7 separate regions of the Homo sapiens genome follow, and regions 1, 2, 3, 4, 6 and 7 are each linked to region 5. Evidence: fine-mapped expression QTL. A gene starts in region 5. Each other region holds a variant in brackets. All regions are shown on one strand. Distances are between the middles of the regions. Region 1 overlaps VENTX (VENT homeobox). Region 2 overlaps LOC124902563 (a long non-coding RNA gene). Region 3 overlaps KNDC1 (kinase non-catalytic C-lobe domain containing 1). Region 4 overlaps ADAM8 (ADAM metallopeptidase domain 8). Region 5 holds the start of TUBGCP2 (tubulin gamma complex component 2). Region 6 holds the start of CALY (calcyon neuron specific vesicular protein). Region 7 overlaps ECHS1 (enoyl-CoA hydratase, short chain 1).

Region 1 (4,108 bases), 68 kb before region 5:
ATTTGCCAAGCCCCCCGCCCCCGCCCCCCAGCACAGCCGGTGCCTGCTCAGCGTCTAGGCTCAAGCCCATTCCGGGTCACCTGGAGCACAGCTGTCTTTAAAGAGCCTGCAGGTTCGCTGCAGGGGTGGCGGTGACCCCGATGCCTGCAGAAACTCTGAAGTTCCCTCTGTGGCCGCCCAGATGCTCTGTTGTCTGCTGAGAACAAAGGTTCTCTGCGTTTGTGTTTTAGTCTTTGTGACATCATCACCACTTTTAGGTTTAAGGTAGTACTTGGTCAAAAGTGGGGTTGACATCATCTACAAGTTTTCATTTTTAAAAATTTGACTGATCCTTATGGAGTGACTTTGTACTTAAGGGAAATGAAAATTTAAATGTATTCTCCCCAGCTAGCTATCCTGCCCCACCCCAAAAAAGCCAGCCATCCCTGTCCCGCAACCCCCTTTCTGATGCCAGTCCTACAGCCCTCCCTGCCAGAAGGCATTTGCTTTTTGGGTCTACCATGTGCTTTCAGGCTAACGTTAAGACAGATTTTGTAAAATACGCTTCCTTCCGCAGAAACTCCAGCGAGCATTTTGGTCAGACTTGCATTTAATGTCGAGCTCGATTGGCCACGTTGGCCTTTCCTGGGACCCAGACCCAGCTCCACAGACCACCTCGTGGGGCCGTTTGGTGCCAGCCCCCATTCCTTAACTTAGAAATTAGGAAACAGACTTGACCACAGTGGGCCTGGGGATTAACTGAGTTGGCCTCCGCTGGCTGAGGAGACGGAGCCCGGGACAGGGATGGGTGCCCCTGGGTGGGTCGCCAGGCCTTTGCATATAATGGATTCTTACCTTACCGGCCTGGAAGGCTGTGGGAAGGGCATCCTGGGAACCGGCTTCTGGAAGGGAAGTGTGGGATGGGGCGGAACTGAGTGGACTGAGCGGAGGGCAGGCCCAAGCTGCTGTTAACATTCCCTCCCCTCTTGAGCCCCCTCTCTGAGCCCCCTTTCCGCATGTGACCTGGGAGGCGGCGGGGGTGCTGCTGGTCACTGTCAGGTGAGAAGATCTGCCCTGCCCAGCCCCCAGCATGGCTGTCTTCACCTGTTACCCGTGGGCACGAGCTTGCCCCATGGGGTGGCATGTTGAGCCAAATGCCCTTACCCTCTATGTCAGGGTTGAGTAAGGAGCCAAATACCTTGCGGGCCCCCCGTGTCCGCACAGCCTTCACCATGGAGCAGGTCCGCACCTTGGAGGGCGTCTTCCAGCACCACCAGTACCTGAGCCCTCTGGAGCGGAAGAGGCTGGCCAGGGAGATGCAGCTCTCAGAGGTCCAGGTGAGGTGGGCCGGGCAGGCTGGGGTGGGCAGGGGTGGGCAAGGGTGGGCTGGTGGCCTAGTCTCACCCCTGTTCTGATCTTGCTTTTCCTACAGATAAAAACCTGGTTTCAGAATCGCCGCATGAAACACAAACGGCAAATGCAGGACCCCCAGCTGCACAGCCCCTTCTCGGGGTCTCTCCATGCGCCCCCAGCTTTCTACTCAACGTCTTCTGGCCTTGCCAATGGCCTGCAGCTGCTGTGCCCTTGGGCACCCCTGTCCGGGCCCCAGGCTCTGATGCTGCCCCCTGGCTCCTTCTGGGGTCTCTGCCAAGTGGCACAAGAGGCCCTGGCATCTGCGGGAGCTTCCTGCTGCGGGCAGCCTCTGGCGTCCCACCCC[C/A]CTACCCCAGGCCGGCCTTCGCTGGGACCAGCCCTGTCCACGGGGCCCCGGGGCCTGTGTGCTATGCCACAGACGGGGGATGCATTTTGAGGAGGCACCTCTGACTCCCACACTCGCGGTCTTGCTGATCGCACCTGGCTCCTACCTGGAGGACTCAGTTGTTCTGTTTACATCCTGGTGGCACCTCTCACCCTGACCCACACAAAGGTTCTGGAGATTACTGGAGAATATATATAAATATATATATGTACGTATATATGTAAATACACATATACGTATATATAAATATATATATACATATGTGTGTGTATATATATATATATTTTTTTTTTTTTTTTTTTTTTTGAGACGGAGTGTTGCTCTGTCACCCAGGCTGGAGTGCAATGACGCAATCTCGGCTCACTGCAACCTCCGCCTCCTGGGTTCAAGCGATTCTCCAGCCTCAGCCTCCCGAGTAGCTGGGATTACAGACACCCGCCACCACGCCCGGCTAATTTTTTCTATTTTTAGTAGAAATGGGGTTTCACCATGTTAGCCAGGCTGGTCTCAAACTCCTGACCCTGTGATCCGCCCGCCTCGGCCTCCCAAAGTGCTGGGATTACAGGCATGAGCCACTGCACCCGGCCCTGAGAATATATTTATTAAAGCCACCTCTTCACTGAAAGTTACCGAAAGAGTCGGTTTAGGAAGGAAACGAAGGGTCAGTGAACAGAGTCAAATGCAGAAGTGGGCTTGTCATGGGTAGGGCTTTCGGCGTACGATAAAAGGATCATTTGTTTTTTAAAAGGGGTTGGAAAAACTGGTTTTCCAGTTGGAAACAGTAAAGGTTGTAAGCTTTGTGTGTACAAAAGAAAACAGGGAATGCAGGTGTGTTTATAGCGTTGTGGTTCAAGTCCCTCTTAACAAGAACTCCAAAGCTGGAAAGCAGGAGGGAACAAAGGTGAACATGAAGGCGAGGATGCTGGGGCCCTGCAGTGCGCTCTAGGCTGTGCGTGAGCCGGGACTGTACCCACAGCTTGCTGAGGGCTGCTCTTCTTGGGCCAGGGAAAGCAGGGCAGCCGGGACCTGCGGCTGTGCCTGGACTGAAGCTGTCCCGCAGGTCCCCACCCTCCAACACGTGCTCACCTGTCCCCCTGCTCGCAGCAGCCTCGGGACAAAACAATGACTCAAGGACAGCACTTCTTGCAGAAGGTCTGGAAGTGCCCAGAATGGGAGGCACGGAAGCCCCTCCCGGGGAGGACTCCCGCGTTGATGGACCGTTCTTGGTGCAGACTCCTGACTGCGTGCATGAAACCTGAGACAAGTGCAATTCCTTCCATGTCGCCCCAGAGTGCCCAGGAGGCAGGCAGTGCGGGGTGCCCAGGCAGACGGGTTCAGCCTGCAGAACTGGAGGCGACCTGTGAAACCCACCCGGGCACCCCAACAGGAACAGAAGCGTGGTCCTGCGGCTGCGTCCCCAGCGAGTTTCACTTTCCCCTTGCTCGTTTCTCCCTTGTTGTAAGTGTTTACAACTGGCATGTGCTTTTAAACGTCAGGTAAGAGGGGAACAGCTGCTGTACATCGTCCTGGCGAGTGACAATGTGACAGAAGCCTGGGCGAGGCCCTCGGAGGGCAGCAGCTGGACAGGGACTACTGGGTTTGGCCTGGACAGCACTGATTTGTGGATGTGGATGGGGGCACGTTGTCCGTGATAAAAGTACAAGTGCCCCTCACCGCCCGTGGAGATTGCTTTCTGGTCCCCTGTGTGGCCCCAGGCCACAAACCACACCGTCTTGGTCCTGAACTCTCCCGGTGAGTAAGGGCCCTGGCCTGGTGGTGTCTCGAGGTCCTGCCAGCACACTGGGCCCTACAAGGTGGGCAGCCCCTTGGGGCTGAGCTGTGCCTGTTCGGAGGCACACCTGGGCCTCCTTAGGGCCCTGGCTCCATCCTGCAGATGAGGAGCTCTGGAAAAGGGCAAAGTCCCGGAGGCTGAGGAGTGGGGCGGGCTCCAAGTGTCCAGCAGGGACCTAGACCCTGAGTTCTGGGGGATCCACAAGGCCCTCAGGCCCAGGGAAGGCTCTGCCACCCACGACTTCCAAACTTCTCTCCCTGTCCCCCATCCGGGGCTGCAGAGTGAGTTGGCCCAGGCCTCATGGGCTGCTGGTATCTGGGTGGACCTTGAAGACCAAGATGCCCCCAAGCCCTACTCCACCCACCTGCTGCGTCACAGCTGGCCGGGATGCAGTGACCACTCCGCTGGCCTCAGCCTGTTTCCGCTCTCCCCTGGGGGCCTTCCTCACATCCCCACAGCCTGTTTCCGCTCTCCCCTGGGGACCTTCCTCACATCCCCGCAGCCTGTTTCCCACTCTCTTCTGGGGTCCTCTGGCTGACAGCTGGACGTCAGTCCCAGAGTTTGGCAAGTCCTCTGCTCCT
Region 2 (4,086 bases), 68 kb after region 5:
ATTCAAACCAAAAATGAACATGCACCAAAATTTTATTTCAAGACCGAGGGTAAAAATGAAGACATCTCGTGTAAGTAGAAACAAATCAACAACAAACCTCAACAAACCTTTAGTAAACGATGCTCTATACTAGTGTAGTTAAACCTCTGGGACAGACAGGCCCAAAATGAAATGGCTCAGACAGAAAAGAGGTTTATTTCCTTCCTTCCTTCTCCTTCACCTTCTCTTCTTTCCTTTCTTTCTTGTCTCGCTGTCACCCAGGCTGGAGTGCAGTGGTGTCATCCCGGCTCATCATAGCTTGCGCCTCCCGGGTTCAAGCGATTCTCCTGCCTCAGCCTCCTGAGTAGCTGGAACTACGGGTGCTTACCACCATGCCCGGCTAATATTTGTAGTTTTTTAGTAGAGTCGGGAGTTTTGCCATGTTGGCCAGGCTGTTCTCGAACTCCTGACCTCAAGTGATCCACCGGTCTCGGCCTCGCAAAGTGCTGGAATTACAGGAGTGGACCACCGTGTCCGCCAAGAGGTTTCCTTTCTAACGACCCAGGAGGCCGGGCAGCTCCCGTCCTCCATCAAGTAATGTAGCCACAAAAGCACAAGCAACAAAGGGAGAACATATGTAAATTGGATTTCACCAAAATTTAAAACTTTTATGTCTGAAAGGACACTACCAAGATAGTGAGAGGACTGAACAGACATTCCTCCAATGAAGATAATCAGTGTCAGATAAGCTCAGCATCACGAATCATTAGGGAAATGCAAACTGACCCCTCAGTGATACGACGTCACACCTACTGTGCTGGCTGCAATAAAAAGCCCAACAGTCACAGCGGGTTGTGGGGGACGTGAGCGGGGAACGCTGGTACACTGCCAGCGGGAATGGAAAATGGTGCAGTCACTTTGGAAAACAGTCTGTTGTTTCCTCAAAAGGTCAAACAGCAACTCCACTCTTAGGTGTACACCTCAGAGAAATGAAGACAAATGTCCACAAAAACTTAGACATGAACGTTCATAGCAACATTATTCATAATAGCCAAAAAGAGGGAAAAAGCCAATTGTCCATCAACTCATGAATGGATAAACAAAATGTCATATATCCAAACAATGGATACATTAGAATGTATTAGACTATACAATGGACTCTATTCAGGAGTAAAAAAGAAAGAAGCGCTGATACACATTACAAAATGGACAAGCCTTGGAAATGTTATGCTCAGTAAAAAAAGCCAGACACAAAGGCCGTGCATTGAATAGGTTCCATTTCTATGAAATGTACAGAACAGGCAAATCCACAGAGACAGAAACTAGATTAGCGGTCACCAGGGGCTGGAGGGAGGGGTAATGGGGGGGACTGCTGAGGGGCATCCCCATTTGCTTTTTAGGGTGATGAAAATGTCCTAAACTTGGGGCCAGGCGCAGTGGTTCACGCCTGTAATCCCAGCACTTTGGGAGGCCAAGGCAGGTGGATCACCTGAGGTCAGGTGTTCGAGACCAGCCTGGTCCAACATGGTGAAACTCCGTCTCTACTAAAAATACAAAAATTAGCCGGGCGTAGTGGCACATGCCTATAATCCCAGCTACTCAGGAGGCTGAG[G/T]CAGGAGAATTGCTTGAACTTGGAAGGCAGAGGTTGCAGTGAGCCAAGGTAGTGTCACTGCACTCCAGCCTGGGCAACAGAGCAAGACTCCATCTCAAAAAAACAAAACAAAACAAAAAAGTTCTAAACTGGATGATGGTGACAGTGGCACAACTCTGTAACTAAACTGAACACCATTGAATTGAACACTTTAAACGGGAGAAGTCTTACAGCATGATGTCTATATCAATAAAGCTATTTTAAAAAATGAACAAGCCTGATTCAGTCAAAGCCACATGGGTAGTTGCCACCTTGATCACCATAGGTGGCATCACCCAAGGCCCTCTGGAGCTAGGAGAAGCACATACCTTGTACCAGTCAGATGGAAAAGAGGTTGTGTCCGTGTGTTCCAGCTGGTGGCTCTGGCATGGCAGGATTGTCCAGGACTGGCCGTGGTCACGTGCACTCTCCATTTCAGAGCAAGGGGGACGAGCGACTAACCCAGCCCCAGGTCAGCGCGTCAGCGGCCCGTGCTATTGGATTCAGGCTGTGGCACCACATCCAGGGGACAAAGAGCGCGTCGGTTGTCCCCACCCTGCAGCTCTTGGGTCCATGTCTTCTCTCTCCGCGCCATAAAGCCAGAGTTCCCATTTCAGTCACTACAATCACCCCTCCTTGCACCAGGCCTTCCAGGTGTGGGGCATGGGCATGTTTACCTCTGGCCTGTGTGGACCGCTGTGGGGAGGCTTGGCCAGCAAGTTGCTGAGCCAAGTATCTTTTATGGGATCCTGCCGCTCCACAGGAGGATCCGGGAGGCTGAACTAGAGTTAAGTTAGAATCTTTCGGTTCCCCTTCGGGCTGGGCTCCCCGCAGGAACCAGGAACGGGCTGGCCAGGAGGACATGATGGACCGGGAGAAGGTGACAGAGGCAAAGCCAGACCCTTCCTGTTCCATCTTGCAGAGGCTGTCCCAACGCGAGGTGAGGCCAGGTGCCTGGGGGACATCGATGCCTGACCAGAGCCCAGCCTGGACAGCCTTCCAGCAAAGGCTGGGCACTGGCCGACCGTAACGGCCCAGGAGAATGAGGACACGGGAGTCTCGGGGCTGGAGGAGCTGGCTGACCAGATGGTGCCTGACACGGTGCTGAAAACAGGGCAGCAGTCCCCAGAGGCTGAGGGGCCAAAGTAGCCTGTCCACCCAGAGTGGCGAGGCCCACGCCTGTGCAGGAGGCCTGAGGCATGGGGTGGCCTCCCTCACAGCTGTGCCCACCCAGCCTGTGCGCAGGGCGATGTGCTCCTATGTCTGGGCAGTGAGCTGGGCCCTGCGGCGAGAGCAGCAGCAGCTCGATTTCACACGGAGCCACTAGGGAGTGGGCCGTTCCCTTGGCCATACCCGTGGGGGACCCAGTTCATCTGTGGAATTCAGAACCCCAGAGTATTTAATCTGCCATCTCAGGACCTCCGCTGGGGAGCTGGGGCAGGTGGGTGGGTGGTCCCGCTGGGCTTCCGTGGTGCATGCCAGGGACCTCAGAATGGAGCGCCCCACTGAGCCAGCGGCTCTGCTTCAGGCCCAAGAGCAGGGAGTAAGAGAGAAGCCTGCTCAGGCAGAACAGGTGACACTCGTGGCGGGGGCTGCACCCCAAACACTTGCCATCCGACTAAGGGTGTGGGGCAGCCCTTCTTTCCTTAGTCCTGGCATGTCGGGTGGGTCAGCTTGGTGGACAGCTGGCCCTGCTGACCCGGGATCCGCCCTGGGTTCCCCATGGCCTGGAGGCAGGAGGAGATGGCCACTGCATCCAGCGTCGCCTCCTGGTGCTGCGGGCCCCTGACGGACAGAGGACGCTCGACCCCTGCCCGCCACCGCCCAGGGAGTCAGCCCGACTCCCAGGCACCCGCCCCTCTCCCTGCCTGGAGCTCAGCTCGCGGGGTTGGCTAGGGAGTGATGGGGAGTGGAATCCAGCGACACCAGGTCACCCTTCCGGGAGCCTTTTCTCCAGCTGGGACGAGAGGGAATCAAAGGAAAGTAAGACACGGCTCAGGAGGCCCACGCCGAGAGCGAAGAGTGAAGCTCACGCTGGCAAACTGGAGCGCGCGGCCCCTCGGCAGAGGACCGGGGCTCAGGAGGCGGGGACGCGCCTGAAAACAGGGCGGGAGCCTTTCCAACCCCCGCGGGCTGCGATGCAGCAGAAAACTCGGCCGCCTGCACCGGGGATTCTCCAGAAACACAGGCGTGCCTGGGTGTGCGCTCAACTTCCCGGGCGAGGGACGTTTCTGCACTTGCCCTCGGCTTCTGAACTTTGTACTTTGCGAGTGTACTTTGTACTTTGGTCCTGTGTCCCTGCAGCCCTGTGACTACACGCGCACACGCAGGCGCGCGCACACGCGAACTGACGGCTCGCTGGCGATGCTGGAGGCTTTCACAGCCCCCCTCCGGACGCGTTAAGCTCTCCCAGGTCCCACCCCTGACACCGTGGCACCCCCAGACCCACTGCGCCCTCGCACTCGACGCGGGTCCCT
Region 3 (4,109 bases), 120 kb before region 5:
CCGCCTGGCCTGGGGGAGAGGCAGCCCCAGCCTCTAATTAGCCAGGATGACCTGATGAGTGGGGCAGGAGAGGAAGGCGGGAGCCCCCTCCTGTGAGAGCCTGGGTTGGGGTCTGTGATCGTGGGAGGGGAGGAGAGGGGAGGGGAGGGGAGAGGTGGGAGGGGAGGGGTGGGAGGAGAGGGGAGGGGTGGGAGGAGAGGGGAGGGGCGGGAGGAGAGGGGAGGGGCGGGAGGGGCACCCAGCCGTGACCACATCTTGCTTGTGCCCAGATGTCAGCGAGAGCAGCTGGCGGGAGAGACCTGCCCCAGGAAACGCTGGGCCCAGGAGGCCGCCCGGGGACCCCAGCACTGACCCGGAGGTTCTGCCGACCCCCGAAGGCCCGGAGTCTGAGACGAGCCGGGGCCCCAGAGCCTCCCCAACCAAGGCTCTGCTGTCCACCCCGGTGAGAAATGGCGAGAGCCACAGCCGGGAGGGGCTGGCCGGCCTCGTCCTGGATGCCGAGCGCACCCTCGGGGAGCTGGACAGAGACGCCCTCAGGAGAAGCCGCCTGCGGAAGGTGCAGACGTTCCCTAGGCTGCTGTCCGACAGCCCCGAGGCCACCCTCTGCCTGCCGCTGACCCGCGGGAAAAGCCAGCTGCCCATATCGGAATTATTCTCTCCGGACCCCAGGAAGGCCTTTCTGGACAGGAAAAATGGCCTTTCTAGCTTCCAGGCTCAGCCCAAATGCAGGCTGTGGCCGGAGCAGGAGCCGGAACACCAGCTGGGACGGGTTCCCTGTGCAGGCCGCAGCACGGACAGGGGCCCTGGGGTGCCCGGCAGTCCAGGACAGCCCGAGACTTCACACCCCAGCCAGGGGCCAGCAGAGGCCCCTGCAGACCCTCGAGATGCTAGCGGTGAAGCCCAGACTCCCAGGGACGATGAGAGAATTCCAGAAGGAGCTAGGCAGCTGGAAAGTGCAGCCGCGGAGCAGGTGGGTGCCTGGGTCTTGTGTGTGGGTGGAGGGGTCGGCGGTCAGTGAGTCCGGGGCCGGGCCTCTCCACAGATGCAAACGCTTTGTTTAACTCAGAGAATTAACCTTCACCCTCGCTCCATAATTAAAGACATTTTCATTGAGCTGCCCCGTTTCTGAAGGAAGCTGTGGCTGCGGCTGGGGATGCTGTCACCCAGGCGTGGCCTCTCGGGTAGACGTTTGCCTCTGGATGACCCAGAAAGCAGCCGCCTCCTCAGCCCTGCCCGGCTCCTCACACAGCCCCGCACGGCCGTCCCGAGGGATTAATTTTCTTCCGGGAAGCAAGGCCAGCAGCCCCGGCTCCGTGATGTCATTTCAGGGGCTCCGTGTCCCCAGTCCTGATGCTCACAGCCCTCCTCATCTTCCTATTCTGACGGTTTAAAAGTTAGAAACCAAAGCTGTGGGTTGAGCTTGCTCATCTGTGGGGCTTGGTGGTGTCGGTGCTGGGCCACCTCCGCTGCCTCCGCGGGGACGCTGGGATCTGGTGCGGCTGCCCGGACGTGGCCTCCACACAGGATGGGGCCTCCCCAGCCCAGTGCTGCCCCTGGTCAGCTGCTCCTCACGAGGGATGGAGGATGCTGTTGGAGCCAGTGTTCTGGGGGGCCTGGTCCGTCGGCCCCTCTGTCCAGCCGAAGACGCTTGGGCCAAGGCCTGGCCAAGTGCATTTTGCCCTCCTTGGCTCCTCAGTGAGCCACCCCCAGCTGTGTCCCCGTGAGCTCCTCCGGGCAAGGTCACCTGAAGTCAGTGGCCTGCAT[G/C]CAAGTCCATCTGCCAGGCAGCGCCTGGCCCGGGGACGGGGGTGCCCTCAAGCCACCAGGCCTCGTTGATCTGAAGGACAAGGGCGCAGTGCCCCGTCGCCCTCCACCACTCTCCCTGGCGGCACGCCTTCCCACGCACAACAGCCTACCTTCCCGAAGGGCACACGGAGGCACAGGGTGGCCGAGCCACCTGTTGGAGGGTGGACTTTGGTCCCAGCTGTCCGTGAGGCCTTGGAGTGGAGAGTGGCCTCCCAGGCTGAACGCATGCCTGGTGTCACGGTGTGTGTGTATGTGAGAAAATGCACCGAACAAAAGCCACCACTTCAACCCTCTGCAAGAGCACAGCTCAGCGGCATTGGGTGTGTTCACGCTGTTGCACAGCTGTCCCCATCAGCCCACACGAAACCCCAACCCCCGAGCCCGCCCCCTGCACCCCGTCCCGCCCTCCACCTCCATGAGCCTGGCCCCTGCACCCCGTCCCACCCTTCCCCTCCATGAGCTCTGTCCAGGGGCCTCGTGGGAGTGGGATGGACAGAGCTGTGTGTCTGGTCTCTTCACTGAGCCCACTGTCCTCACGGTTCCTCCCCAGGGAGCCTGCGTGAGAACCCCCCATCCCTGTCCCGAGGCCAAGCGCCATCCACACTGCCCCTGCGTCCGTCCGTGGATGCCTGGGTGCTCCCCGTGTTGGCTATTTCGAGCCGTGCTGCTGGGAACATGGGTGTGCACGTATGCGTGAGCCCTGCCCTCGGTTCCTCGGGGAATGTGGCCGTGTGGAACTGCTGTCACCTGGGAGGTGTATGTTGAGCTTTTCAAGGAACGGCAGCACTGTCGTCTGCAGTGGCTGCACCGTGGGACGTTCCCACCCACAGGGCCAAGGGCCCCAGTCTCCCCACGGCCCCCACACGCTGGAGTTGACTTAGGGACCTCCCTAGCCCTTCTATCAGGTGTGGGGGGCGCCTACTCAGGGGCTGAGTGGGCCTCACCCTGGCCTGTCCCCCGGACATGCCTCTCCAGGCGGCGGGCCCTGGCAAGGGGTGTCCACACTGACCTCGCCGCTCTCCTGCCCACAGTGGGTGTCCCTGCAGGACCTCCTGTCCCAGCTGGGCCGGCCCTTCCGGGAGTACGAGCTGTGGGCCCTGTGCCTGGCCTGCCTCCGCGCACTGCAGACACGCCCTGAGCACCCAGGTGACGCACGCACCATCCCATCCCCCCCGCCGTCCCCACCCCCCACTGCTGTTCCACCCCCCACCGCCGTCCCACACCCCCGCCGTCCCACCCCCCACACCGTCCCACGCCCCCCCACTGTCCCATCACCCCTGCCGTCCCATGCGTAACTGGCCCCCACCTGAACCAAGGGACCCAGGGGCAGCCAGGACAGTGTCTCCGGTGAACGGAACAGGCGGCTCCCGTCTGGAGCACCTTGTGGGTGCCTGCTGGGTTGCAGCACCGAGGGAGGTGTGGGGACAGATGCCTGCAAGGTGGGCCTTGAAACCGGTGACTGTGCCGTAAAGAGGAACGGGGACTTTGCCATGGCCCTCGCCCACACATTCTCAACACAGTGACATTGTCCCCAGGGAGGCAGCAATTGGCTTTGGAGTGGGGAGGGAATCTTCAGCATTGCACGGGTCTGCCCCGTCAAAGCCTAGCCCTGCCAGACATCAGGGCAGACGGACGGTGCATCTGAGACGTAAAAACGTCCTGGGGGTGATGAGGGCAGCATCTGAAAGGGCTGGGGGAGAGGCCATCGGAGACACACCCGGCTCCAGTGTCCGTCCACCGTGAGCCCGTGGCTGCCCCGTGGGCCCTGACTCGGGACGGGGCCTGTGACACGGGGGCTTCAAGTTACCGTGTTCTCCCTGCCGCTTGGCTCCCTTTCAGCCGCAGATATGCCGCTGCAGCCACTGTGTCGGCTGGGGCAGCGCTACCCTCGGGGAGGGCTGGGAGGAGGCAGCTCCGAGGACCCCGGGGGCTGGGGTCAGGCCATGTGCGTGCACTGGCAGGTGCGTGCCCGTGCAATGGGGAGGCTGGGGGGCTGCCCGGCCTGACTGAGGCTCCGCAGCTCCTTCCCCCCAGCCAGCCCCAAGTGCGGGGCAGCATGCATACCCGCCCTGACCCAAGCTCTGCCACAGCCTACCTGTGTCTGGACTCCGTGCTGGTTGCTGAGGACGGGGCTGTGCTCTTCCAGCCACCCCCTGCCAACGGTGAGTGTGTGGGTTCCCCTCAGGCCGAGTCCAGCACCGGCTCGCCAGGGGTGAGGAAAGCTCAGTCGGGTTTCTCTCTTAGGTTCCTATGACTCGTTCTTTCTGGCTCCCGAGCTGGCAGAGGAGAGGCTGGTAACTGAAAAG
Region 4 (4,109 bases), 41 kb before region 5:
CTGCCCCCTTCAGGCCCCCATTTTGCCTGTCCAGACCCCTTCTAGGACTATTTCTGCAACTCACGTACAAGTCTGAAGTTAGTTCAAATAAAAAGTTAAAAAGGAAAGAGAGAAATAGAAAATCACTATTAGGGCCGGGCATGGTGGCTCACGTCTGTAATCCCAGCACTTTGGGAGGCCAAGGCAGGCAGATTACGAGGTCAAGAGATCAAGACCATCTTGGCTAACACAGTGAAACCCCGTCTCTACTGAAAAAAAAAATACAAAAATTTAGCCAGGCATGGTCGCGGGCACCTGTAGTCTCAGATACATTGGGAGGCTGAGGCAGGAGAATGGCATGAACCTGAGAGGCGGAGATTGCAGTGAGCTGAGATCGCGCCACTGCACTCCAGCCTGGGCGACAGAACGAGACTCCATCTCAAAAAAAAAAAAGAGAGAAAATCACTATTAGGCAAACAGCACAGAACAACTATTGCAGCCAATATTCACCAATGGATGCCAAAACTAGTGGGTCCAAGCTTAAGGTTCAAAGAGTCTCAAGGTATCTCCCTGAGGCATCTGCTCACTATAAAAAGAAGACAGGAGCTTTCTAAGGAAAAATCTGTGGACGCTGCTCCAACTAGGCGCTGTGTCAACATCCCCCGTGACCGAAGCTGCATGTGGGCCAGGCCTGGGCTGTGCCTGGGGAAGGGTGTGTCCAGTGCTGCCCCCGCCAACAGTGCAGGGCCCTCATCCACACAAGGAAAGACGGGACAAACCCAGGCTGAGGGACTCTGAAAACACTGCTGGCCACACTTCCAAAGGGCAAGCTGAGGAAAGGCAGAGGGGCCGGGGGCTGAGTGCCTGGGGGGACCATGGCTGGAGAAGGGCGTCCAGAGGGAGCAGGCGGTACTGACTGGGTCGCATTGGTGACGTGGAGCCTCGGCTGCGCGCCCACACTGTGGCCATTCGGGAGCAGGCCAGGCGAAGGGCATGCAGGATTCTCTAGGCTATTTTTGCAACTTTTCTGTAAGTCTAAAATTTGTTCAAAATTAAATGTTAACAAAAAAAAAGCCTCAACCCAGAGGGCAGGGGCTCTCCTGCCCCAGGTCTTCCATGCACAGCCCAGTCCTAGGGCTGACCACGAACCTCTGTGGAGGGGGTCCCCGGAGATGCACCGTGGGACCTCTTCACACAGGCACCTCCCCAGCCCCAGCCTGCCCGCCACCGTCCTGCCCTCTCTGAGGACAGAGGCTGCTCACAATGTCCCGCAATGCCAAGTGGACCTCGATGGTACCACTGGGGCCCCGTGCCAGGCCCCAGAGAGAAAGCCTGGCCCTTTCTGCTGCCCTAGCTGAGTCAGTGGCCCCAGGAAGGGAGCTCAAGGGTCCTTCTCCACCCACTGCCAGAGCGGTTTCCCAGGGCTGAGGCCAATGAGCTGCCCCCACGGGGTCCAAAAAGGGCTCCAAGGTTAGCCCAGAGGTGGGAGCCAGGGCGCAGGGACAGGACCCCAACCCTGGGGGGACACGGAGGCCTGGGAGTTAACCCTCAGCATGCCAGGGCTCCAGTGATTCGGGTTTTGAGAGATCTTTCCAAAACCCCCAAAGCCCCCAAACCCAAGGGAAGCGCGGAACGTGTCCCTGCCCTGAGCCCACCCACCCATCTGTCCTGCAGGGCCCCAGGGAGTCCTCTTCTCTGCCAGAGCTTCAGCTCTGGGAGGGGCTTGGTGGGCGGAGCAGGTCTGAGTGGAAGGAGAAGGAGCCAGGACCCCCAAACCAGCTCCAACGCAGGGCAGGACTGAGCTCCTGCCTTCCTGTGGCCTCGCTGACCTGCCTTTCTGTCTGATGTCCTCACGAGGTCGGGCTAACCAGCCTTCTGTGTACAGCAGGGGCCACCTGGGGATCCCTGGCCCCCGGTGCAGTGCACAGACCCCAATCCCATCAGGAAGGCCTGGACACCCTCAGA[A/C]GGCTTGGCCGCCCAATCACCACTGCTCACCTGCTTTGGTGCCTGCCGGGTGTAGACAGGAACTGGGAAGGGTGGGCTGGACACAGTGACCGGAGGCTGGAGGAGACAGGGCCGAGAGCCTGGGTCAGAGCTGGGACCCCCGTGCCCCTCCAGCACCCCCAGCTCCAGGATCCGAGGTTCCTGCCTCTTGTGTGTGCTGGAGGCGTCTGCGCGGCCCACAGGGCCCCACCCCAGATGAGAGGCCCCGCCCCATTCCTCCCCTCAGCCGTGTGATCCCGAGCTGGGGGCCGGAGAGCATTTGTGTCTCGACACTGTCCTCAGATGGGCTCTGTGGAGGCCAGGAAGCTTCCCTGGGCTGGGAGCCCCCAAGTTTAAGTTCAAGCTCAGATTCTATCATGGCTCAAAGGGGTCTGGGAAGTGCCCACTCCCAAAGCCTCAGTGTTCCCAGCAGGGCGACCACAGCAGCTGCTCTGGGCCTCGGGGCCACCGCTGGCCTGTGCGTGAATTTAATGAAAGGGCTCTGCTGGCCTCGGGCTGCACTTGGGGTCGCAGGATGGGGCCTGGGCACTGCTTTCGGCCTCATGAACCCGCCAGGGGTGGTGCTTACAGCAGGGGGCGGCCTCTTCAGAGCCACCGAGGAGGCCGGGTGTCGGGCGGGCTGGCCCGGGTGGGTGGTGGGGACCAGCTCTTGGGGGCCCCTGGATGGGGCTGGAGCCCCGCCCTTGGCCGGCACGCGGCTGGCAGCCTGGTGGAACAGGGGGTTGGAGCGCCCCATTGTGGTCTTGGGAGCCACGTTCCTGGGGAGGAAGCACAGGGCGCATGGTCAGTGTCCGGCCATGGGGCCCCAGCACCACACCCCGAGTCTCTCCCTCCCAGCTCCAGCCGACCCGAGAGGCTTCAGGGCGAGAGGTTGTGGCCATGAGAGACAGACAGGCCCAGGAGGTGGGGCGGACCCTGAAGAGGCAGGGACACCCCCTCCATGTCCTGGGGGCCCCAGTCAGGTGGGCGGGAGATGCTTGGAGGCTGTGGGGCCAGTGTGTCCTGCTGCGTGGGGGTCTCCTGCTGTGTGGGGGTCCAGGTCCCTAGAGCAGGGCTCAGCAGGAAACTGGCAGGGTGCTCACGGGGCTGGGTCAGGGTATGGGGGACCCCACCGGGCCTCTCTGGATTTGCCCCAAGCCCAACCGGCCACCAAAACCATGCCCCGCCCCAGCCTCAGGGGAAGGTGGAGTCCAGAGTGGCACTGGCCGAGTGGAGCCAGGAAGGCCCTTCAAACTCAGCCCAAGCCGGGGGGCGTCATGACGTCGGGGCACAGAGGAGCCTGGGTGTCCGTGCCGTCCACCATGGGCCCGTGCTGGGCACTCCTTCCTCTGGCAGCTGAGCACGGGAAGCACTCGCCACCCTCCGTCACAGCCCCCACCACCCTCACCTGCTCAGGATGCGGCTCCGGGCTTTGCGGTAGACGATGATGCCTGCCAGGGTGACCAGCACAACTGCCAGGAGCACCAGAACCACCACCACGAAGACGGGGAGGCTCCCGGACGCTGTGGGACACACGGCCCCACATCAGGCAGGCAGGCCGCGACCTCAGGCAGGAGCCAGGGAGGTTCCCAGAGACACGGTCTTTCTCAGCACCCCCAGGCTGTGCCCTGTGGACCCCTCAGGGAGGACCTGGTACCTTACACTGGCACTCCCAGCTTGCCAGTGACAGGTTGGAGAGCTTGGCAGGGTGGCCCTGGGCCACAGTGCTGTGGGCACGGCTGTGCCTTTGAGGCCTGATGCTCTGGACGACCACATGCTCAGTGGCCGCCGGGGAGGAAATGCTGGGTGGCCTCAGGGCCCCGGGCCGAGGAGGGGCTGGAAGACACAGGCTGAGGACACTGGAGTCTCAGCTCACGGCCGTGCCCTGCCCTCGGCCACTGCCTCCCTCTGGGACAGGGCTCTCCCCTCCTCACATCAGCCTGGGGACAGACAGGCTCTGCCTATACCTGTGTGTCGATGCCTGTGGCAGCAAACTGGCACCGTGAACACCACCAGCTTCCCGGGCCCGCGGCTTCTGCCTGGGCTCTGTTCGGGCCCTCTGAGCTTGGACCCCAGCCCCACCTGCGCTGGCCAGGGAGGCCTACCTGCGTGCACCTCAGTCAGCAGCTTCGCGCAGTGGGGCGGGG
Region 5 (4,109 bases):
ACCTATGAAGAAAAATCATCTGAGTATTTATTTAAAAACTACATGCTGGGCACGGTGGCTCACGCCTGTAATCTCAGCACTTTGGGAAGCCAAGGTGGGCGGATCATGAGGTCAGGAGATCGAGACCATCCTGGCTAACATGGTGAAACCCCATCTCTACTAAAAATACAAAAAAATTAGCCGGGGGTGGTGGCGGGCGCTTGTAGTCGCAGATACTCCAGAGGCTGGGGCAGGAGAATGGCATGAACCCGAGAGGCGGAGCTTGCAGTGAGCCAAGATCACACCACTGCATTCCAGCCTGGGCAACAGAGCGAGACTCTGTCTCAAAAAATAATAATAAAAAAAATAAAAACTACCTTCAGGAAACTTCGTATCTCTTCTAGAAATAGAAGCACAGATGCCCGCACGTCATGAGTGTTCATCCCATGAGGAGCCTGCTGCTCTCCCTGAATGTGGGGACCGGGCCTCCAAGAGGGCAGCCCGTACTCGCACAGAGTCCCTCCCCCCAGAAGACCTTTGGAAAAGTCCTAGGGCAACTCTGGGGTGTCACGGTCATGGAAGGGTGCTCTCGCTACTTAGAGGGCAAGGGCGGGGGATGCTAATCATCAACAGAGCTGTCCCGCCAGAAATGCACAGCGTCCCACTGAAAACACAGCTCTGAGGAACATCTAGCCGTGGCTGCTTCTTGGAGGAACGTCTAGCCATGGCCGCTGACTTGGCCTTCTTGATGCTCCTGAATTCTTACTATTAATCACACAAACTGACAGGCCCAGCAACTGTGACTGGGAGGGACTGACGTCCTCCTCACAGAGGCTGTGAGCTACCGCAGGGACGCGTGCTGAGGGAAGCAATGCACGCATGTCACACTCCACCACGGACAAGCGGGGCACACACTCCTAGTGAGCACACACTCCAAGTGATTAAAACACAGAGGGACGTGAAAAAGAGTCTCTGTTGAGAGCTCAAAGCTAACTGTACAAATTGGTTTGAAAAATGTTATTTTACAACTTGTGGAAAATGTCAAGAGCCCAAAGGCTTTTACAGAGACAGAAAGTACAGTCATGCATCACTCAACATTCTGAGAAATGCCTGGCCAACATGGTGAAAACCAGTCTCTACCAAAAATACAAAAATTGGCCAAGCCTGGTGGCGCACACTTGTAATCCCAGCTACTTGGGAAGCTGAGGCACGAGAATCGCTTGAACCCAGCAGGCAGAGGTTGCAGTGAGCCCAGATCGCGCCACTGCACTCCAGCCTGAGCGACAGAGAGAGACACTATCTCCAAAAGAAAAAAAGAGAAACGTATGGTTACATGATTTCCTTCTGTGCGATCATCAGAGTCACTCGCAGACCTGGATGGTGTACGGCCTACAATGCACCTAAACCACCTAGAGGAGCCTCTTGCTCGTGGGCTACAAACCTGCCCAGCAGGTGGCGGTGCTGAACACTAGACAACTGTAACACAGAGATATTTGTGTATCTAAACATGGAAAAAGTACAGGGGCAGGCATGGTGGCTCACGCCTGCAGTTACAGCTCTTTGGAACGCTGAGGCAGCAGGACCACTTGAGCCCAAGAATTTGAGGCCGCAGCGATCTATCAGCTATGATCGCACCATTGCACTCCAGCCTGGGTGACAGACGAGAAAGCTAAAGCCTCTATCCGCCACTGGGCCCATTCTCTGCAGTAGATCTGAAGCGTCCACTGCTTCCCGCGTGTGTTGTCATTCACCATTTTAATTAGGTGACTCTTTACTCTGACGTCTGTCTCTCCTACAAGGCTGCCGCGCCCTCCTGTGATGCCTTCCCCCACACGCCCTGAGCACCTAGCACAGGTCCTGTGTTTCACGGGAGCTGCGGGGACTGGAGAGGTCGACAGGACCCCGACAAACCAGGAAAGGGCCTTTGAACTAAAGTAACGGGAAGTCACCCAAGGGCTTTAAATTAAAAACGGTTACAATAAAACTGGAGTCACTTTGGCTCCAGTTCGCGACTGGTTTAGAGGGAACAAGATCCAGGGACTGCAGCGGGAGACGACAGGCGGGGCAAGGCGGACGGGAGAGGGCGTGCGAGAGGGGGACCTGCGACCCGGCTTCCCAGGGCTGGGAGGGGACACCCGGGACGACCCGGAGGCCCGCTCCGCCCCGCCCCGGCTGAGTGTCGGGCCGCGGGGCAAGACGCTGGCCTGGCCGGTGCAGGCCCGAAGGGCTTCGGCCCCAGAGTTCGGGGACCGCTGCACAGCCAGAGGGAGCGCGCGGGAAGAGCCGCGTCCCGCCAGCCCCGTCGCCTCGTGGGCCCCCCCGGGCCTGGCAGTCCCCCAACCCCCTCATCACGCCCGCGCCCGCGTTCGGCCAGGACTCACCGCAGTCCCGGAGCCACAGCCCCCGCGCAGCCCCCGACGGCGGCGGAAGTGAGCGTGACGTCACGTCCGGCTCGGCTCGCGGACGGTGGCCGACAGGCTGCGCCCGCCCGCGCCCGGGGTGATGCAGTTGCCCCCCGCGCTGTGCGCCCGCCTCGCTGCGGGGCCCGGGGCGGCGGAGCCGCTGCCTGTAGAGCGGGATCCCGCGGCTGGGGCCGCGCCCTTTCGCTTCGTTGCGCGCCCCGTGCGCTTCCCGCGGGAGCACCAGTTCTTCGAGGTGCGTGAGCAAAAGAGGGAAAAAGTAGTTGTAGGATCCAGTGGGGCCTACGGCGGCGAGGCGGGGCCGGAGCCTGGAGTGGGAGGGGCCTACGACTGCGGGGCGGGGCCGGAGCCTGGGACAGGCGGGACCTGAGGTGGTGGGGCGGGGCCGGAACGTGGAGTGGGCGGGGCCTGAGGCTGTGGGGCGGGACCGGAGCGCGGGATGACTGGGGCCACGGGTGTGGGCGAGGCCTGACGCGGTGGGCGTGCCGCGAGTCACCTGGCCCCGCCCACGGCGCACTTTTCCTGCAGGATGGGGACGTGCAGCGCCACCTCTACCTCCAGGACGTGATCATGCAGGTGGCCGACGTGCCTGAGAAGCCCAGGTAAGCGAATGGGCAGTGCCTAGCCAGTGCTACTCCTGCGCCGCCTCCCTGACCGGTGCCTGGTCCCTGGGGCTGTGCTGCCGCTCTTCCATGTGCGGCCGCCCCACCGAGGCGCTGTGCCTGTCCAGCTTTGGCGTGGCCGACTCTTCCACCACCTAGCCTGTTTGTGAAACTTAATTCATAAAAAGAGGGTTTGGGATTGCAAAAGATGCATAGGGGCTTTATTGGACGTCTCAAAGGGAAACTGTGCAGAAAGTCCAGCTTGGTTCCTCGCACCGGAGGAAGGGCTCCTGAAGCACGTCTCCTTGGCAGGGTGCCCGCGTTTGCCTGCCAGGTGGCCGGCTGCTGCCAGGTGTTCGATGCCCTGGACGACTACGAGCACCACTACCACACGCTGCACGGAAATGTTTGCTCCTTTTGCAAGCGGGCCTTCCCTTCCGGACACCTGCTGGACGCCCACATCCTGGAGTGGCACGATTCGCTCTTCCAGATCCTGTCTGAGAGGCAGGACATGGTGGGTGACAACTGCACAGCCGCCGAGGCCACCCCCCATTGGTGATGGGCTCAGAGTGCTGCCCCCAGCTCTCGGGTGCTCGGGCAAGGCCGGGGACACCTTTCCGCCCTTGGCAGCTCTGCTACGGGGGCATGGCGGTGGGGGAGGGCCAGGGGTCAGAGGGAGGTGACACGGTCTCCATTTCAGTATCAGTGCTTGGTAGAAGGCTGCACAGAGAAGTTCAAGACCAGCAGAGACCGGAAGGATCACATGGTGAGGATGCACCTGTACCCCGCGGACTTCCGGTTTGATAAGCCAAAGAAAAGCAGAAGGTAGGGAGCCGCCAGGCTCAGCACGTGTCTGCTTTTGATTTTAGGAAAAGGTTTCCAACTAGCCGGAATGCATAGACGGTCAGACTTATTAAGCACTTGTGTGTCACCTAATGGGGTGTTCACCTGCAGGTACCTGAAGCCCTGGCAACACAGCTACAGGTGGTTGTGCCAGCGGCCACCCTGCCGAAGGGAGGCTGGAGGGGAGCCCCTGGCTGCCCAGCTCTGTGCCGGTGGAGGCAGCAGAGGGGGTGTGGGAATGAGCGGGCGCAGCGCCTCCGCACTC
Region 6 (4,109 bases), 27 kb after region 5:
TAATTTGTGACAGCAGCGCGAGGATGTCCAATTAACTGCCAGAGCCAGCAGTGACCAGTCTTTCTCGCCCTGCAGTGGCCAGGCTCCGCTGTGGGTTCCAGGTGTGGGTAGGCACCACGGGAACAGGAGCAAGGGACCCGCGGTCACAGAGCTTCTGCCCAGCTGCTGCCACTCAAGTACAGATAATGTGGAGGCATCTGCGTGGAGGAGAATCTAAGGGTGGAAGGAGCTGAGGGTGGAATGATTGCAAGGTGGAAGGATCCGAGGGAGAAGGATTGAGGGGGTGGGGGGGGGGGAAGGATCCGAGGGGTGAGGGATCCAAGGACAGAGGGACCCAACGGGGAAGGATTGCGCGGGTGGGGGTGGGGTGGAGGGGAGGGATCCGAGCGGAGGGGTCCGAGGGTGGAACGATCTGAAGGGAAGGGACCCCAACGGGGTGCGGGGAGGGATCCGAAGGGGTAAGGATATGACGCGGGGGGAAGGATCCGACGCAGGGGGAGGGATCCGAGGGTGGAAGGATCTGAGGGGGGAAGAATCCGACTTGGGGAACGATCCAAGTGGGGTAGGATCCCAGGTGGGAAGGGTCGGAGAGCGGAGGTATCTGAGAGGGAGGGCTCTGAGGGGGAAAGATCTGAGAGTGGAAGGCTCTGAGGCGGAAAGATCTGAGAGTGGAAGGCTCTGAGGGGGAAAGAAAGATCTGAGAGTGGAAGGCTCTGAGGGGGAAAGATCTGAGAGTGGAAGGCTCTGAGGGGGGAAGGATCTGAGGGGGGAAGGCTCTGAGGGGGGAAGGATCTGAGGGGGGAAGGCTCTGAGGGGGGAAGGATCTGAGGGGGGAAGGCTCTGAGGGGGGAAGGATCTGAGGGGGGAAGGCTCTGAGGGGGGAAGGCTCTGAAGGGGAAGCTCTGAGGGGGGAAGGATCTGAGCGGGGAAGGCTCTGAGGGGGGAAGGCTCTGAAGGGGAGGCTCTGAGGGGGGAAGGACATGAGGGGGAAGGATCTGAAAGGCGAAGGATCTGAGGGGGGAAGGATCTGAGCGGGGAAGGCTCTGAGGGGGGAAGGCTCTGAGGGGGGAAGGACATGAGGGGGAAGGATCTGAGGGGCGAAGGATCTGAGGGGGGAAGGCTCTGAGGGGGGAAGGCTCTGAAGGGGAAGCTCTGAGGGGGGAAGGACATGAGGGGGAAGGATCTGAAAGGCGAAGGATCTGAGGGGGGAAGGATCTGAGCGGGGAAGGCTCTGAGGGGGGAAGGCTCTGAGGGGGGAAGGACATGAGGGGGAAGGATCTGAAAGGCGAAGGATCTGAGGGGGGAAGGATCTGAGCGGGGAAGGCTCTGAGGGGGGAAGGCTCTGAGGGGGGAAGGCTCTGAGGGGGGAAGGACATGAGGGGGAAGGATCTGAAAGGCGAAGGATCTGAGGGGGGAAGGATCTGAGCGGGGAAGGCTCTGAGGGGGGAAGACTCTGAAGGGGAGGCTCTGAAGGGGAAGGACATGAGGGGAAGGATCTGAGGGGCGAAGGATCTGAGCGGGGAAGGCTCTGAGGGGGGAAGGCTCTGAGGGGGAGGCTCTGAGGGGGAAGGACATGAGGGAGAAGGATCTGAGGGGCGAAGGATCTGAAGGGGGAAGGATCAGGGGAGGAAGGATTTGGAGGTGGCAGCTTCTGCGTGGGGAAAGAACTGAGGGGGAAGGATCTGCGTGGGCGAGAGTGCGGCCGGTGAACGAGGGCTGGGTAGGGGATGGGGGAGGCCACTCTGAGCCGGAAGGAGCTAGGCGAGGGGAGACAGGGCCCCCAGTCCTGGACCTGGCCACGCGCTTTGGGGCCCTAACCCGTGCCCCTCGTTGTTGTGTGTTCATCGCAGGCGACCCTGTGCCTGCCGGGCCTTTCTGGAAGAGGCCGTGCGGTGTCCCCCAGACCACCCACCCCGGGCTGAAGACTCTTCCTGAGGTGGGTTCCCACGTGGCCCGGGCAGGGGCAATGGGCACTCGGCGGGCGAGGTTTCACGGTGCAGCCAGCGTCCGTGTGTGTGCAGGCGGAGACGGACGAGGCGCCACGGGGCTCAGAT[A/G]CAGGAGCGATCGGTGGAAGCAGAGTCGGAGCAGCGGAGGGCCGAGAGGCCGGGGAATGACGTGGTTGTGGGGCGAGGGCAGCCAGCGCCGGGGCTTGAGGTGGAGCTTGGCCCGCGGGGGTGGGGGTGCCGCTGAGGAGGAGGGGTCGGGGGTCTCCCCGGAGCGGACGCCCAGAGCAAGCCCAGCCTCTCTACAGACGGGCGAGGGGGAGGCGGAGAAGGGGGCGCAGTCCCGCACCAGGGCCCGCAGCGCCATAGGGTAGGGCCACGCCCCGGAGGGCCCGCGCCAGGAGTCTCCGCCCGAACCCCCGCTCGGGCAGGACCCCCGCCAGGAGGAGCTGCGCTTGAGGGGTCCCCTTCGAGCCAAACTTCAAATCCAACTCCTCGGACGGCCAATTTACGTCATCGCGGGTTTCCATGGCAACGCAGACAGGCCCGAGACGCGTCTTCAGGAAGAAAAAGCCATTGGGGGCCCACTGGAGCCTCGCTTCTGGTTCCGGGCCCAGCGCCCCGGGCGGAATGCGGGGTTGGAAAGGGGGGACTAGCCTGTGTGTGGGGTCCAACCCCCCCACCCCACACACCAGACCTTCCCTTTGCATTGCTGCGTCATGGGGGCCTCCTCCCACGGATGACACGCGGCTCGTGGAACTGGGGGGCCGCCTCTGCTTCTCCTCCCGGCCCCTCCCTGCACCTGCGCTGTCGCGGCATCTTCTGCGGGTCCCCTGCGCCCCACCCGCCGCGCTCTGGCAGGGAGGCAGTGCCCGGCTCCTGTCTCTGGGGCGGGGAAGGCGTGGGATGCTGATGGCAGATGGGTGGGGGCGCGGGTGAGTGAGGCCGTGCAGATGGACAGATGGATGGCGGGGGCGGGGGTGCAGGCTCTCAGTCGAAAGTCCACGGAAGCTCGGCTGGAGGTCACGTCACAGACTCGCTTCCGCATGCGCCCCCCCCAACCATGGAATGCTGCGTCACGCTGGGGGGTGCGCGCAGGTGGGCTTGTGCGGGCCGGGCACCAGCGCGTGTGACTGCGGATCTGAGGGTCCCGCCCAGCCCCCGCGGGCGCCACCGCAGCCTCCCGCCCCTGGCGCTGCAGGGGGCTGTGGCTGCCCCGCTTATTAAAAGGCAGCTGCACTGCGGGGTCGGCGCAGCCCCTCGGAGGGGAGTGGGCGCGCAGCTGCTCCCGCTTCCAGCCCAGCCACCTGTGGCCCCGCACCCGAGCCTGCTGCAGGTGGTTCCGGAGCCGCGCCCCTCCCGGCCTCCTGGCCACCTCTTGCCTGTCACGCAGACGCCCCCATCAAGCCCACCGCCCACCCCCAACCCCCGTGCGGGCAGCGGCTCCTCGGTGCTCTGGTCCGACGCCCCTTCTGTCGCCCTCCCCACCCCGCCTCCGGCGGACAGAGCTGGGCGGGAGCTGGGACTGGTACCCCCTCCCCACCTCGGAGACACCCTTAACTCCAGGCTGCGATCCTCGTGCCGGGGCCCCGCCGTCACGGGAAGCCTGGAGACCACCGCCCTCGGGTCCGCGGGGTCGGACTGGCCTGGGGCAGCCAGAGGAGGCCCGAGGGAGGAGGGCGGCCGTGCAGCGCGCCCTGCACACTCGCACCCGCACACGCGCCTCGCACACACGCACTCACACCCTCATCCGCACGCGCGCCACGCACAAGCGCACTCGCGAGCACACGCACCTCGCACACACACCCGCACACGCGCCTCGCACCCCCGCACCCCTTCGGGCCCCCCGCCCACATTCTGCAAGAAATGTGGAAATAGCTCACAGGCGGCTCCACTGGCAGCTGCTGCAGGACGCGGTCGGGGAGGACGACGATGCGGATGTGGATGCGGAGGATGCGGTTCCAGACGCTTCGCGGCCGGGCGGGGCGGGGGCTGCAGCTGCGAGACCGAGGCTGTGGTCGCCATGGAAACGCGGCTAGAGGCGGGGCCTCGACTCTGGTCCCGCACCCTCTACCCCCACCCACCGCCCCGGCTAGGGAGCCGCGCATGCGCCCCTCAGACCCTGCTCGGGCCTCACCACACACCTCATACACACACCTGATGCAC
Region 7 (4,109 bases), 54 kb after region 5:
AAGTGGAGGAGACACCGGCAAACGCTCTCTGGCGTCTGCACTGAGCTGGGGGCAGGTGGGCTTCCCTGGGGGAAATACCTAGAACCAAGGGCATGATGACATGTCCATAGTATGAAACGTCAGGGCCACTAAAAAGAATGTTATAGGACTGTCATTTAGTGAGAAAATCAAATGGTGAAACATGCCACAACAGGCACAAACCTTCTGGACAGTATGTGCCTTAGCTTGGGCTGCTGTGATGCAGTGGCATGGTCTGGGTGGCTGATAAACACTGACTTTCCACAGTTCTGGAGGCCAAGGCTCCAGGCAGGTTCGGTGTGTGATGAGGCCCACCCTGGTTTACAGACAGCACCTTCCCACAGAGCACTCACATTGTGGGAGGGGTGAAAGAGTGCCCTCAGGGCTCTCCTAAGGGCAGTAATCCCACTGGAGGAGCTCCGCCCCCTCATAGGGCACTAATCCCACTGGAGGAGCTCCGCCCTCTCATAGGGCACTAATCCCACTCAAAGAGCTCCATCTTCTCATAGGGCAGTAATCCCACTGGAGGAGCTCCGCCCTCTCATAGGGCACTAATCTCACTGGAAGAGCTCCATCCTCTCATAGGGCACTAATCCCACTGGAAGAGCTCTGCCTTCTCTTAGGGCATTAATCCCACTGAAGGAGCTCCGCCCTCTCATAGGGCACTAATCCCACTCAAAGAGCTCCGCCCTCTCACAGGGCACTAATCCCAAAGAGCTCTGCCCCCTCATAGGGCACTAATCCCACTTGAAGAGCTCTGCCCTCATAGGGCACTAATCCCACTGGAGGAGCTCCGCCCCCTCATAGGGCACTAATCCCACTGGAGGAGCTCCACCCTCTCTCTCCTAGGACACTAAACCCACTCGAAGAGCTCTGCCCTTGTGACTAGTCATTGCCCAAAGTCCCCCCTCCTAATGCAGTCACGGTAGGGGTTAGGATTTCAACCCAGGGATTTGGGGTGGGGCTGAGTGAAATGAGCCTGACCCAAAGGGATAAATGGAGGTCCCTCCATAGAGACAGGAAGTAGAAGCGTGGGTGCCAGGAGCTGGAGGGAAGCAGAAAAGGGGTTGTTGTTTAACGGGGACAGTTTCCGTTTGGGAAAATGAAAGCTTTCTTGGATAGTCATGGCTGCACAACGAGAACGTACTTAATGCCGCTGAAATGTGCATTTGAAATGGTTCAGACCAGCCTGGGCAACACGGGGAAACCCCGTCTCTACAAAAGGTAAATTTAAACAGTCAGCTGGGTGTGGGAGTGCGCCCCTGTGGTCCCAGCTACTTGGGAGGGGGGGAGGATCACTTGAGCCCAGGAGATTCAAGCTGCAGTGAGCTGTGACTGAGCCACGCACTCCAGCCCGTCTCTAAAACACAGTGGTTAAGATGATCAAGTTGACGTCGTGTGTTCCCACAGTAGAGAAGAATGCAGTAAACTGAACAGAGAGCTCCTTATGACAGAAGTAGGAAGAAAATAGGGTGGGCTCTCGTGAGGAAAGGGCTCGACGTGAGTGGGCGTGGAAGAAAACCATAGACCATGCCTGTGCCCGTGTGCAGGGGTGTGTGGGTGCGTGCACAGAACTCTAGGAAGTCACAAGCCCAGCTGTTCACAGTGGCTACCCTGGAAGTATGATGTGAGGCAACTGACTATACAAACTTGTTTTGTTTGAATGTTGTTCCTTACAGTGAAAAAACAAAAAAGTTTAAAAAAACAACTAACATGACAGAATGCTCATTGCAGACATGACTACAAGGCGTGGTGTAATCTGAATCGCTATCACTTTAATCAGCATCTGTATGAAGGCAGCAGACAGCGTTTCCCTCAGAGCAGCCCCATTCTTCAGCGGCAGGGACACAAGGACCCGCAGGCCCCGCTTTCCGTCCGAGCACAGCATGCCCAGAGGGACCAGCGGGGGCTCCTCAGCAGAATCTTAGATTTAGAAGGTGCTCCAGTCAGGACCCTCACAGGCTGGGTGACGAAGGCTGTCATGCCGTGAGAGGTCGGGCCACGACCA[C/T]GCAGCAATTGGAGAGGAACTGCACACCACGGACACTGCTCTTGAAAAGAGGATGATTTACTTGCTTCTAAAACTGACAGGCTGCACTTGTCCTCTCCAAGCAGAGGTGTGAAGCAGGGGCAGCTGGTTCTCACTGGTCTTTGAAGTTGGCCTTTCTCTTTTCCACAAACGCGGTCATCCCTTCTTTCCGGTCATCCTGGCAGGAAAAGGAACAGAAACAGAGCTGGACGCGCAGTATCCTCACAGAGCCTGATGCCAATGTCCGCCCGTCTCTCCCTGGCTCTGCCTCACTCATGCTCACAGGGGCCCAGGGGGCCGGGGAGGGGACTCAGCGGCAGGAACACCTGCCCAATCAGAGCTGGGCCTGGGCGCGGGGATTTTCACGGCCTCTCTCTACCAGTCTAGGTGACGGTCATTCAGGAGCCACTGTGTATGTCCAACAAGCTCACATCTAAAGAGCCTCAGATGCACCCATCTTGGTCACTCACCATGTCATCAACTGGATGATGGGTGGCCTGTATCAGGGGCTACTCTGTGTTGGAGTAGGACGTGAGAACTCAACTCTGCATCTGCTTTTCTTACACTGTGTGCACGTGTGTCCCCAGGTGTGCGCGCGCGCACACACACACACACACACACACACACACGCATCTGTACCCCTTCCTCAGGTGCCCAAACCACTTTTAATTTTTATTTTATAGAACAATTAAAACACCGAAGTATGACTTTCTCCCAGTGAAAGACATGAATTAAAATGGTAATCTGGCCGGGTGCAGTGGCTCACGCCTATAATCCCAGCACTGTGGGAGGCCGAGGCAGGCAGATCACTTGAGGTCAGGAGTTCAAGACCAGCCTGGCCAACATGGTGAAACTCTGTCTCTACTAAAAATACAAAAATTAGCCAGGTGTGGTGGTGGGCACCTGTAATCCCAGCTACTCGGGAGGCTGAAGCAGGAGAATCACTTGAACCCAGGAGGTGGAGGTTGCAGTGAGCTGAGATCTCACCACTGCATTCCAGCCTGGACGACCGAGCAAGACTCTGCCTCAAAGGGAAGAAAATTAAAATTATGATGGTAATTAGAGGAATTACTTTAAGTTACTGGCAGAAATCTTATAAAATATTGCTCTAAAGCTTCAGCTTATCTTATTAGAATACATTTGAGCCTATTCCAAATAATTGGAATGATCTAAAAAAACATGGGTAAAATGAGTTACATTTTTTTTTTCAGACAGAGTCTCACTCTGTCTCCCAGGCTGGAGTGCAGTGGCGTGATCTCGGCTCACTGTAATCTCCGCCTCTGGGTTCAAGCGATTCTCCTGCCTCAACTTCCAGAGTAGCTGGGATTACAGGCACCTGCCACCACGCCCGGCTAATTTTTTGGATTTTTAGTAGAGACGGGTTTCGTCATGTTGCCCAGGCTGGTTTCAAACTCCTGAGCTCAGGCAATCCACCCGCCTCAGCCTCCCAAAGTGCTGGGATTACAGGGTGAGCCACCGCGCCCGGCCTCATTTTTTAAAAAAGTCTTTTTTTTGAGACGGGGTCTTGCTTTGCTGCCCAGTTGGACTCGAACGACCCGCCTCAGCCTCCCAGGAAGCTGGGGCTACGGATGCTCGACACCCACCCGGCTGAAACTGCATTTTCAATAAAGGAGCTGCTTGAGGGTGCAATTCACAGACCTCACATAACAGGAAAAACAAGAAAAGCCCCTGTAAGGTTTCTGTACTTTTGAACTTGTACATGCTCTACTTTTTTCCTAACATCAAGACCCACTGATGGAACCAATCTGATCCCGTTAAAGGTGAGGCTGGCAGTTCTGACCAGAAAGAAACGATACTTAATGATAAAATTTAAAAGGAAATTCCCAGCAACTTGTGTGACTGGAATTTGCTTGATTCTCCGGTTGAACACTGTTTACTCACAGTGGCAAAGGTTGAATAAAAGAGTTTCTTCTCCAACTTACTTCCTTCTGTTAATGTCATTTCAAAAGCTGAAAAACAAAGTCCCAGAGTTATGAACGGAGATATTACATGCAGAACTTTTCCTGCACGGTGACAGGAAGCCCTCCTCACTGACCCATGCACA

Evidence for each region. PIP is the estimated chance that this variant, and not a neighbour inherited with it, causes the effect.
Region 1: its variant is fine-mapped to the expression of TUBGCP2 in whole blood (INTERVAL, PIP above 0.99).
Region 2: its variant is fine-mapped to the expression of TUBGCP2 in whole blood (TOPMed, PIP above 0.99).
Region 3: its variant is fine-mapped to the expression of TUBGCP2 in whole blood (TOPMed, PIP above 0.99).
Region 4: its variant is fine-mapped to the expression of TUBGCP2 in whole blood (TOPMed, PIP above 0.99).
Region 6: its variant is fine-mapped to the expression of TUBGCP2 in whole blood (TOPMed, PIP above 0.99).
Region 7: its variant is fine-mapped to the expression of TUBGCP2 in whole blood (TOPMed, PIP above 0.99).

Annotation. Positions count from the first base shown.
Region 1 is chr10:133,238,521-133,242,628 of GRCh38, forward strand. VENTX (VENT homeobox) reads left to right here. Exons shown (of 3, transcript NM_014468.4): 2 at 1,156-1,316; 3 at 1,412-3,408. The coding sequence ends at 1,786. Among named protein-coding and RNA genes, the nearest start is that of VENTX, 2.7 kb to the left of the region's middle. RefSeq lists an enhancer at 1-122. The variant C/A (reference allele first, on the strand shown) is at 1,697.
Region 2 is chr10:133,374,722-133,378,807 of GRCh38, forward strand. LOC124902563 (a long non-coding RNA gene) reads right to left here. Exons shown (of 2, transcript XR_007062395.1): 1 at 1,939-4,086; 2 at 15-485. Among named protein-coding and RNA genes, the nearest start is that of PAOX, 2.5 kb to the right of the region's middle. RefSeq lists an enhancer at 3,634-4,086. The variant G/T (reference allele first, on the strand shown) is at 1,592.
Region 3 is chr10:133,185,705-133,189,813 of GRCh38, forward strand. KNDC1 (kinase non-catalytic C-lobe domain containing 1) reads left to right here. Exons shown (of 30, transcript NM_152643.8): 6 at 270-970; 7 at 2,835-2,949; 8 at 3,894-3,965; 9 at 4,048-4,109. Among named protein-coding and RNA genes, the nearest start is that of KNDC1, 28 kb to the left of the region's middle. The variant G/C (reference allele first, on the strand shown) is at 1,765.
Region 4 is chr10:133,265,378-133,269,486 of GRCh38, forward strand. ADAM8 (ADAM metallopeptidase domain 8) reads right to left here. Exons shown (of 23, transcript NM_001109.5): 18 at 4,068-4,109; 19 at 3,371-3,485; 20 at 2,552-2,741; 21 at 1,975-2,040. Among named protein-coding and RNA genes, the nearest start is that of ADAM8, 9.4 kb to the right of the region's middle. The variant A/C (reference allele first, on the strand shown) is at 1,945.
Region 5 is chr10:133,306,463-133,310,571 of GRCh38, forward strand. It overlaps TUBGCP2 (tubulin gamma complex component 2), which reads right to left and starts at 2,410. Exons shown (of 18, transcript NM_006659.4): 1 at 2,361-2,410. ZNF511-PRAP1 (ZNF511-PRAP1 readthrough) reads left to right here and starts at 2,452. Exons shown (of 9, transcript NM_001396060.1): 1 at 2,452-2,634; 2 at 2,928-3,001; 3 at 3,314-3,515; 4 at 3,702-3,826. The coding sequence starts at 2,482. It overlaps ZNF511 (zinc finger protein 511), which reads left to right and starts at 2,452. Exons shown (of 6, transcript NM_145806.4): 1 at 2,452-2,634; 2 at 2,928-3,001; 3 at 3,314-3,515; 4 at 3,702-3,826. The coding sequence starts at 2,482. RefSeq lists enhancers at 1,587-1,816, 2,540-3,235, 2,643-2,937 and a silencer at 2,047-2,896.
Region 6 is chr10:133,333,008-133,337,116 of GRCh38, forward strand. All of the region lies in intron 5 of ZNF511-PRAP1 (ZNF511-PRAP1 readthrough), which reads left to right. It overlaps CALY (calcyon neuron specific vesicular protein), which reads right to left and starts at 3,889. Exons shown (of 6, transcript NM_015722.4): 1 at 3,827-3,889. RefSeq lists an enhancer at 2,144-2,819. The variant A/G (reference allele first, on the strand shown) is at 2,055.
Region 7 is chr10:133,360,712-133,364,820 of GRCh38, forward strand. ECHS1 (enoyl-CoA hydratase, short chain 1) reads right to left here. Exons shown (of 8, transcript NM_004092.4): 7 at 3,947-4,014; 8 at 1,774-2,222. The coding sequence ends at 2,157. Among named protein-coding and RNA genes, the nearest start is that of FUOM, 4.7 kb to the left of the region's middle. The variant C/T (reference allele first, on the strand shown) is at 2,027.